2 linked regions of the Homo sapiens genome follow. The protein of the gene in region 2 purifies or fractionates together with the protein of the main gene of each other region. This does not show direct contact. Each region holds a gene or a part of one and is shown on either strand. Other genes may lie near its edges.

What was found. The genes of interacting proteins can lie anywhere in the genome.
Region 1: the proteins of ZNF384 (region 2) and TUBA3C purify together in Homo sapiens (affinity purification with mass spectrometry, with the first as the bait; 3 studies listed by BioGRID). This does not show direct contact.

What each region holds. Positions count from the first base shown.
Region 1 is NC_000013.11:19,173,272-19,176,048, forward strand, and holds the end of TUBA3C (tubulin alpha-3C chain), read right to left. Parts: intron 889-2,777; coding exon 592-888; 3' UTR 501-591; downstream 1-500. UniProt on the Homo sapiens protein: Tubulin is the major constituent of microtubules, a cylinder consisting of laterally associated linear protofilaments composed of alpha- and beta-tubulin heterodimers.
Region 2 is NC_000012.12:6,675,368-6,680,764, forward strand, and holds part of ZNF384 (zinc finger protein 384), read right to left. Parts: intron 5,253-5,397; exon of another isoform or gene 5,156-5,252; intron 4,159-5,155; 5' UTR 4,154-4,158; coding exon 4,088-4,153; intron 3,817-4,087; coding exon 3,579-3,816; intron 3,344-3,578; coding exon 3,296-3,343; intron 3,094-3,295; coding exon 2,760-3,093; intron 1,893-2,759; coding exon 1,800-1,892; intron 1,485-1,799; exon of another isoform or gene 1,420-1,484; intron 1-1,419. UniProt on the Homo sapiens protein: Transcription factor that binds the consensus DNA sequence [GC]AAAAA. Seems to bind and regulate the promoters of MMP1, MMP3, MMP7 and COL1A1.

The DNA of each region.
Region 1 (2,777 bases), on a different chromosome or scaffold from region 2:
CTGAGGGGCAGAGTGGCCGTGTGTGTGCACGGAGGGCAAATGCTGTCTTCCAGGTTACTGTGGAAGGCTGGGTGTGTTGTAACCTTCTATGGGTCACGAATGCTGTGCAGAACACAGTAACACTCTTTCCCTTCTAAAATGTCCTGACCTTACACATTTGACCCACAGCTTTAGGGATTTCATGGACAAGCCCCATCCACAGACCTCAGATTTAAACACTCCATGTCTAGACTCTTCTTTGTAGCTCGCATCACCCATCAATAGAAAAGCCCCCAAAGTTGCAAATTCAGTTGAAAACCCTGACTGTGCTTTCCTAGAATTTAGGAAATCTATTTCTCCGTGTCAAGTTACTTCTGTGGCAGCTCCTTAAGTATGTACCATCCCGCTGCACCCAACTCCATGCTAGCAGGGCAGGCTGGCACCCCACCACTGTCCATGCAGGCTCTGGGGGTCCCACCTGCTCCTGCAGGCAAAGCTAGGCAGTACGATACACAGAGGTCTTGGTTTTATACAGAACCTTTAATTGCAAAGAACTTGAAAGCAGCCACGCTGGGGGTGGCAGTGGAGTGGAGAACCCACCACACCCTCCCCTCAGTATTCTTCACCTTCTTCAGCCTCGGCTTCCACGGAATCCACGCCCACCTCTTCATAATCCTTCTCCAGAGCTGCCAGGTCCTCGCGGGCCTCAGAGAACTCCCCCTCCTCCATGCCTTCTCCCACGTACCAGTGCACAAAGGCCCGCTTGGCATACATGAGATCGAACTTATGGTCCAGGCGAGCCCAGGCCTCCGCGATGGCCGTGGTGTTGCTCAGCATGCACACAGCCCGCTGCACCTTGGCCAGGTCTCCCCCAGGGACCACCGTGGGGGGCTGGTAGTTAATGCCCACCTGCCGGAGAAGAGGAAGAAACAGTCCATGAAGCTTATATCAAACCTGGAAATGGTGGCTGCTTTTCCTCAAAAAGAAGACACCCTGTAGGTGAACAGGAGAATTCTCAGTTCACCCCACAAATGTCACTAAGCCCTTCTCTGTGCCAGGCAGGGTGACAGTTCCAGACAACATATGTTGCCCAGGCTGGCCTCAAACTCCTGGGCCCAATCGATCCACCCACCCCAGCCTCCCAAAGTGCTAGGATTACAGTCATGAGGCAGCATGCCCAGCATTTTTTTTTTTTTTTAAGAATAAGGTATTTTCTAAAGGATTTTTGTGCCCCTTTCTTGGGTGGTAGAATTCATGTGGAAAAGGTAGGTTGAACTTAGTAATTTTATGGGCATTTTGGGGAATCTTGTAGGTGGTGTATATATTTTATTTTAACTTGGGCATTACTATAAACTGCTTCACAACATCATTCGTTCCACTGTCTCATGTAGGGTTTGATTTAAAAAAAGAATGAGTTGTTTGTGATGAAAACAGCAACAGGTGCAGTGGCTCACACCCATTATCCCAGCTCTTTGGGAGGCCAAGGTGGATTTCTTGAACTGAGTTTGAGACCAGCCTGGGCAGTATGGCAAGACCCTGTCTCTACCAAAAATACAAAAAAATTAGCTGGGCATGGTGTCATGCACCTGTGGTCCCAGCTACTCAGGAGGCTGAGGTGGGAGGATTGCTTGAGCCTGGAGGGCAGAGGTTCCAATGAGCTGAGATCCTACCACTCCTTGGGTGACAGAGCAAGACCCTGTCTCAAAAAAATTAAAAGGCCGGGCACGGTGACCCACACCTGTAATCCCAGCACTTTGGCAGGCCGAGGTGGACAGATCACGAGGTCAGGAGATCGAGACCATCCTAGCTAACATGGTGAAACCCGGTCTCTACTAAAAATACAAAAACAAAATTAGCCGGGTGTGGTGGCGGGCGCCTGTAGTCCCAGCTACTCGGGAGGCTGAGGCGGGAGAATGGCATGAACCCAGGAGGCGGAGCTTGCAGTGAGCCAAGATCACGCCACTGCACTCCAGCCTGGGCGACACAGCAAGACTCCGTCTCAAAAACAAAACAAAACAAAACAAAACAAAAAGCAGCAACGTCTTTATTTCTTTTCCGGGAAGCCTAGTAATTTTGGCCTGGGTTTGCCTCAGACACAAAATCTGTCCCCACCTTCCACTGACACAAAAGAAACCTTGCTGTCCTCTTTCAGCTTTATCAATAGTTGGTTACTAAATCTTGTGGCATTTCTCTGTTGGGCCTGTGCGTTCTTGTGCTGTGCTTTCCCTGCTGCCTCTGGCTCAGACCCCCACCGTCTCTGTTGGGGGAGACCACTGCAGTCAGTTCTGACTGGGATTTCCTACTGTGGGTGTCTCTTCTTCTCCTTCAGGGGTTAGCACAGCTGCTGGACTAGCCACCTAATTTTGTAAGATCTTGTCTGAACACAGCCACCACACCCCTTCATTTGCAGATTGATTTTGCTATCCGACAGCAGAGTGGGGTAGGTGTGACAGAGGTCGTGTAACCTGTAAGGCCTAGAATTTGTATGATCTTGTCTTTTTTTCTTTTTTTGAGACAGAGTCTTGTGCTGTCACCCAGGCTGGAGTGCAGTGGAGTGATATCTTCTCACTGCAACCTCCACCTCCTGGGTCCCAGTGATTCTCCTGCCTCAGCCTCCTCAGTAGCTGGGATTACAGGTGCCCGCCACCATACCCGGCTAATTTTTGTATTTTTAGTAGACACGGGATTTTGCCCTGTTGGCCAGGCTGGTGTCAAACTCCTGACCTCAGGTGATCCGCCTGCCTTGGCCTCCCAAAGTGCTGGATTATAGGCATGGGCCACCATGCCCATCCAATTTT
Region 2 (5,397 bases):
AAGTAATTTGCCAAAGGGCAGTTATTCACTACAAAGCCATGATGCCAGCCTACTTTAAGATTCTTAACACCAGAGGTATTCAAGCAGAGGTTGGAATCATCTGCCAGGAAGGGACTGACCAAGGAGATCATTAAAATATTTCCAACTTGAAAATCCTATGAAGTCAAGTAAGAGAGTCCTCTAATGCAAGGTGCTGGGTGGTTGGAAAGAAATTTAGTTTTGGAGAGTCGTGGCAGTCAGCAGGGGATAGAAAAGCCAGCATCCATATCATGGGGTGCCTTCCTCCAGGGGCACCATTCACATCCAACACAATGAGAACGGGACCCCTTGGAAGCATGCAATGCAATGGCCTTGATTATAATAATTACAAGTATGGCCACTTTGAATTATTATCCATTTTTCCTAAAATGCTCAAAACAATTTCAAATATTCTGACTTTGCCTCAAAACATTTCTACAAGACAGATGAAGGCATGGCTGATCTTCCCATTTTATATATGGGAACAAAGAGTGGGAGATACGTTGACTTGACCAGAGTAACAGAACCCAACTGCCCCAATAGCCAGTCAAATGCTACTGACCACTGAAGAGGGTATGGCTGACCCACACATGCATCAAAACAGAAATTCACTGTGATAAAAAGATTTCTTTTGCCAGGCACAGTGGCTCACACCTGTAATCCCAGCACTCTGGGAGGCCGAGGCAGGCAGATCACCTGAGGTCAGGAGTTCGAGACCAGCCTGGCCAACGTGGTGAAACCCTGTCTCTACTAAAAATACAAAAGAATTAGCTGGGCGTGGTGGCGCACCTATAGTCCCAGCTACTCGGGAGGCTGAGGCACGAGAATCGCTTGAACCTGGGTGGCAGAAGTTAAGAGTGAGTTGAGATTGTGCCACTGCACACCAGCCTGGGCGACAGAGCGAGACTCCGTCTCAAAAAAAAAAAAATTTCTTTGGAATGTCAAGAGTTCTGAGTTTCTGAAGAAATTCTGTTTACCTAGGATACAATAAGTCTCCCTTCAATTTCAAAGTTCTTTGTAGTCTCCTGGGTGGATGGTCATTCAGGAATTCCAAAAATACTGAATGTGTGAAAAGCCCCATGAGGCTTTCTTCCAACTGTATATGTGCATTTCTTTTAATATATACAGTTTGGAAAGTCCAGAGATAGCTTTAATGTGGGTCACAGTGAAGAAAGGGCAGAATGAGAGGACCCTGATCCATTAGAAGGGCTCTATAGAGTGTTAAAGGATCCTTCTACTACTTCCACAAATTGTATATAGATGTATCTCCATCTCACAATGGCCTCATTTTAAACAAACACATAAAAATCTAGATTTCTATACGATAACTTAAAAGGGATTTTAATTTTATGAACTGATATATAAGAGAATGCCTTTAAATGAATCAAACTTGTCAGGTACCTTTATAATATGATATGATGGAAACATTTTCCAGGAACACTTTTATTGTATAAAGTGGGGTACACCTGTAATAATAAAGCTGCAATGAACTTTTGGATTATGAGCTGGAATTCTGCAGTGCTCAATTCTGCATAGCAACACTCCTCTCATTTTCATTTATAAAGAGCGGTTTAAACACTCTGTAGGCTACTCTCCATAGTAGAACTATACAACACAAATAAAAATAAATGCTAAATAACTAATTTCTTAACTTTCTTTTGAAGTTCCCAACATTTCAAATCTTATCTGATATATACTCCCAACAAACGGGAGGCATAAACAGAATTATCCCCATTTTACAGATGAGGAAACTGAGGCCCAGAGAGGGGAAAAGGACTTGCCCAGGGTCACACAGCAAATTCGTGGTGGAGCCGGGAACTGAATCCATGAGCCCAAGGCTCTGTCCATTTCCTGTGCCGCAGTTCCCTTCGCTCCTAAAATGGGAACAACATTGCCCATCTGGGTACACTAAGGAACTAAGGACAGACCCAGACTCCCAGCCATGCACATCTGCCCCTGTCTATATCAAAGCTGTGACAGTAGTTATCCCACTCTATACAGTGCTACCAAACTCCCCAAACCCACTAGGGCACGTGACAGTTCTCAAAGGGATTAAAAGATGTTCAACTTTCAAAGGGCAGGGAGTTTACTTATGTAATTATTTTTGTAGAGTATCACATGCAAATACGCATATAATGCTTTTTGGTAAAGGGGAACTTAGAGGAAGTGGAGAATCAAAATGACTTTCATAAATTAGAAAGTGAGCAAAGTCATTCTTTAAGTACATATTCCAAAGGGGGAGGCATCCTATTCCTCCTACCTTCTTATGAAGGCCCCTCCCATCATCCCAACCATGCAGGGTAAGGCAGGCTCAGTGTTCAAATGCGACCCAGGAACTGGTGGATGGCACATAGGTTAGGTGCTTACTAGAAAGGTTTCTTAGAAAAATAGGAATGGAATATGTAGAAAGCAAAAAGGAGCTGCAGCCAAGAGTCTCAAACCCAGCATAAAGCCTTATTACAAGAGAGAAATTCTACTCTGTTACTAAAAAATTAGTCAGTGTTAACGACCCCCAAAACAAGGGTTAAAAAAAGGAAAGGGTGAAATGGGTCTTTGCATCCTAACACGATGCTAGCAGCTCTGCCTCCTATCCTATGATGGGACACCTGACATGCAAGTGGCTCAGAGCTGGGAAGCTGTCAGAGTGTAGCGCCTGACCGGGGCAGAACACAATGAGGGTACAGGGAGAATCACCAAGCCAGGGATCCTCGCCCCATCCTGCCCCTGGCTCTGAGTCTTACCTGTAGGTCTTGCCGTCTTTCTGATGGTCATCATCATCCTCAGGGGAGAGGACATAAGGGTCATTCATCTCGGGCAGCCCTGATTCCAGCATCCGCTTCTTCTTCCGGCCCCGGGGTGGCTTAGGAGCCACACTGCCACCTCCACCACCACCTCCGCCTCCTTCCTCGGTTAGGGTCGATGCTACCTTCTTGGAGAGGTCAGGGACAACCTGCAGGGCTTGTGAGCCAGGGGGAAGAGCTGAGACAATCATGGGAGCCGAAATGGGGAAGGTCTGAGCTGATGATGCTGTGGTCACAAGAGAGCCTGAGGGGGACGTGATTACCAAACCCGGACCTAGGATTGGGAGAAAAAGGAGATGGCGTCATGTTGTTCAGTCCTGATCCTAATCCTATTTCATTTCCCCCAGATCATTGTCTAATTAACCCCTCACCCCCCCGCCGACCCAACCCAGAGTACACAGGAAATCCCAAACCCTGTAGAAAAATAATGGTCTCCTAACCCTTGTCCCCACCCCCCTGGTAACAGTGAGATTTACCCCTTGATTGACTCCCTTCTCTTCTCCACCTCTGAGAACAGGAGACTCCTTGATTCAGAGAAGGAAAGAATGTCACCTCCTCAAAGGCAGGGACCGCATCTTCTACTTCTTTGTATCCCCCACAATGCCTAGCACATTGCTAGGCACACAGTAGGCACTTAATAAAAATTTGATTGAATAATCAAACACATATCCCACTCCCCATGTCCTTGGAGCCCTCCAGCCTGGGGTACTGATCATGGAAGATCAACACCTCAGATTGGAGAAGAGCAGAGTTGCTCACCAGCAGTCATCAGTCCTGTAGACGGCACAGGGACCACCGTGATATTCTGGGTAACGGACGCTTGGCTGTGTGGGGTCAGCTGGTCTGACTTGGACTCTGTGTCCATACTGATGCCTGAGGGCAGGGACACTGAGGCAGGCACTGTCAGCAAGGTGGGGTAGTGAGGTGGGGCCAGACCACAGCCCTTCTCTGGCAACAGCTGATCCTTCATCTTGTTGATGAACATTGTGTTCTCGATCTAAGAGAAAAGGAAGGGGACGGGAGCACCCTCTTCAGCCTGAGAGGCTGATTCTGCTTGCTCGTGAGCACACTTCAGTGTCTGTCCTCCTTAGGGATCAAGGATGAGCACTTCATACCTCTGGCCTTCTAGAGAGAAGCCCAGGCAGAAACACTAGATAATTCTCAGGGGTGGGGGACCCAGTAAAACAGCATGTGGTGTACCTTCAGTCTCCATAGTAACAGAACTTACTACTGAGACTTGGAGAGAGCAAGAAAGCAACACCACTTACCTGACCTGAGACTGTGGGGATAGAAGGCCAGAAGTACGGGTTAGAATTGAAGTGAGATTCTTCCATTCTACCTGAAGAAAAAATGAGAGAACATGTCACACTCAGGAATTACTCAGAAAAAGCTAAGCAATGGAGAAGGGGAACTGAAGAGTTCCTGGTCTCCTCTGGCACCTGATCACATGGCTGGGGACTGGCAGTCAAGACTTAGTGTCTAGCACATTAGTCCCTTGGTCAGAGCCCCTTGTCACTGTATCCCCATCCAACAGAGGCTATCCTACTTCATGACTGTGAAAGAACTTATACGTATCACATTTACTCACACAATGTTATTCATGCCCCCTAAAGAAAAACTGGTATTACTTTCCTTTGCTGGCAAAAAGAAACTGAGCTCACGAGAGGGGAGATGATGTAGCTAAGGTCACAAAAAACAAATCACTGACTGACTTGAAAACGGCCAGGTGCCAGTACCTAGCATGACTCCTCTTTCTCTTATTCTTCAAAACTATATTCCTTGAAATAGAAATTTTAGTTTTTCTGTTTTTGAGACAGGGTCTTACTCTGTCACCCAGGCTACACTGCAGTGGCACAATCATAGCTCACTGCAGCCTCAATCTTCCAGGCTCAGCCTCCCAGGGAGCTAGGCCTACAGGCCGTGTGACACTATGCCAGACTAATTTCTTTTTTCTTTAAAGTAGAGACACGGTTTTTCCATGTTGCCCAGGCTGGTCTTGAACTCCTAGGCTCAAGGGATCAGCCCACCTTAGTCTCCCAAAGTGCTGGGATTACAGGCGTGAACCACTGTGCCCAGCCAATAAAAATTTCAAGAGTTCCAACCAATATGTCTACAGTTCTGTGTAGTTTGAGAAGGTTCCAGGCCAGAACACAATACGACTAAGAAAATTAAAAAATGAAGACTGGGCATGGTGGCTCACACCTGTAATCCCAGCACTTTGGGAGGCTGAGGCAGGTGGATCATTTGACCTCAGAAGTTCGAGACCAGGCTGACCAACATGGTGAAACCCCATCTCTACTAAAAATACAAAATTAGCTGGGCGTGGTGGCACATGCCTGTGATCCCAGCTATTTGGGAGGCTGAGGCAGGAGAACTGCTTGAACCGGGAGGCGGAGGTTTCAGTAAGCTGAGATCGCGCCACTGCACTCTAGCCTGCGGAACAAGAGCAAAATTCCGTCTCAAAAAAAAAAAAAAAATCAGAATCAAAACATATTTTGAGTACCAACTACTATCTGAAGACCACACCCCACCAATCCCACCAAGGTCTAAGAACACCCACGGTGCTACACTGGGCACC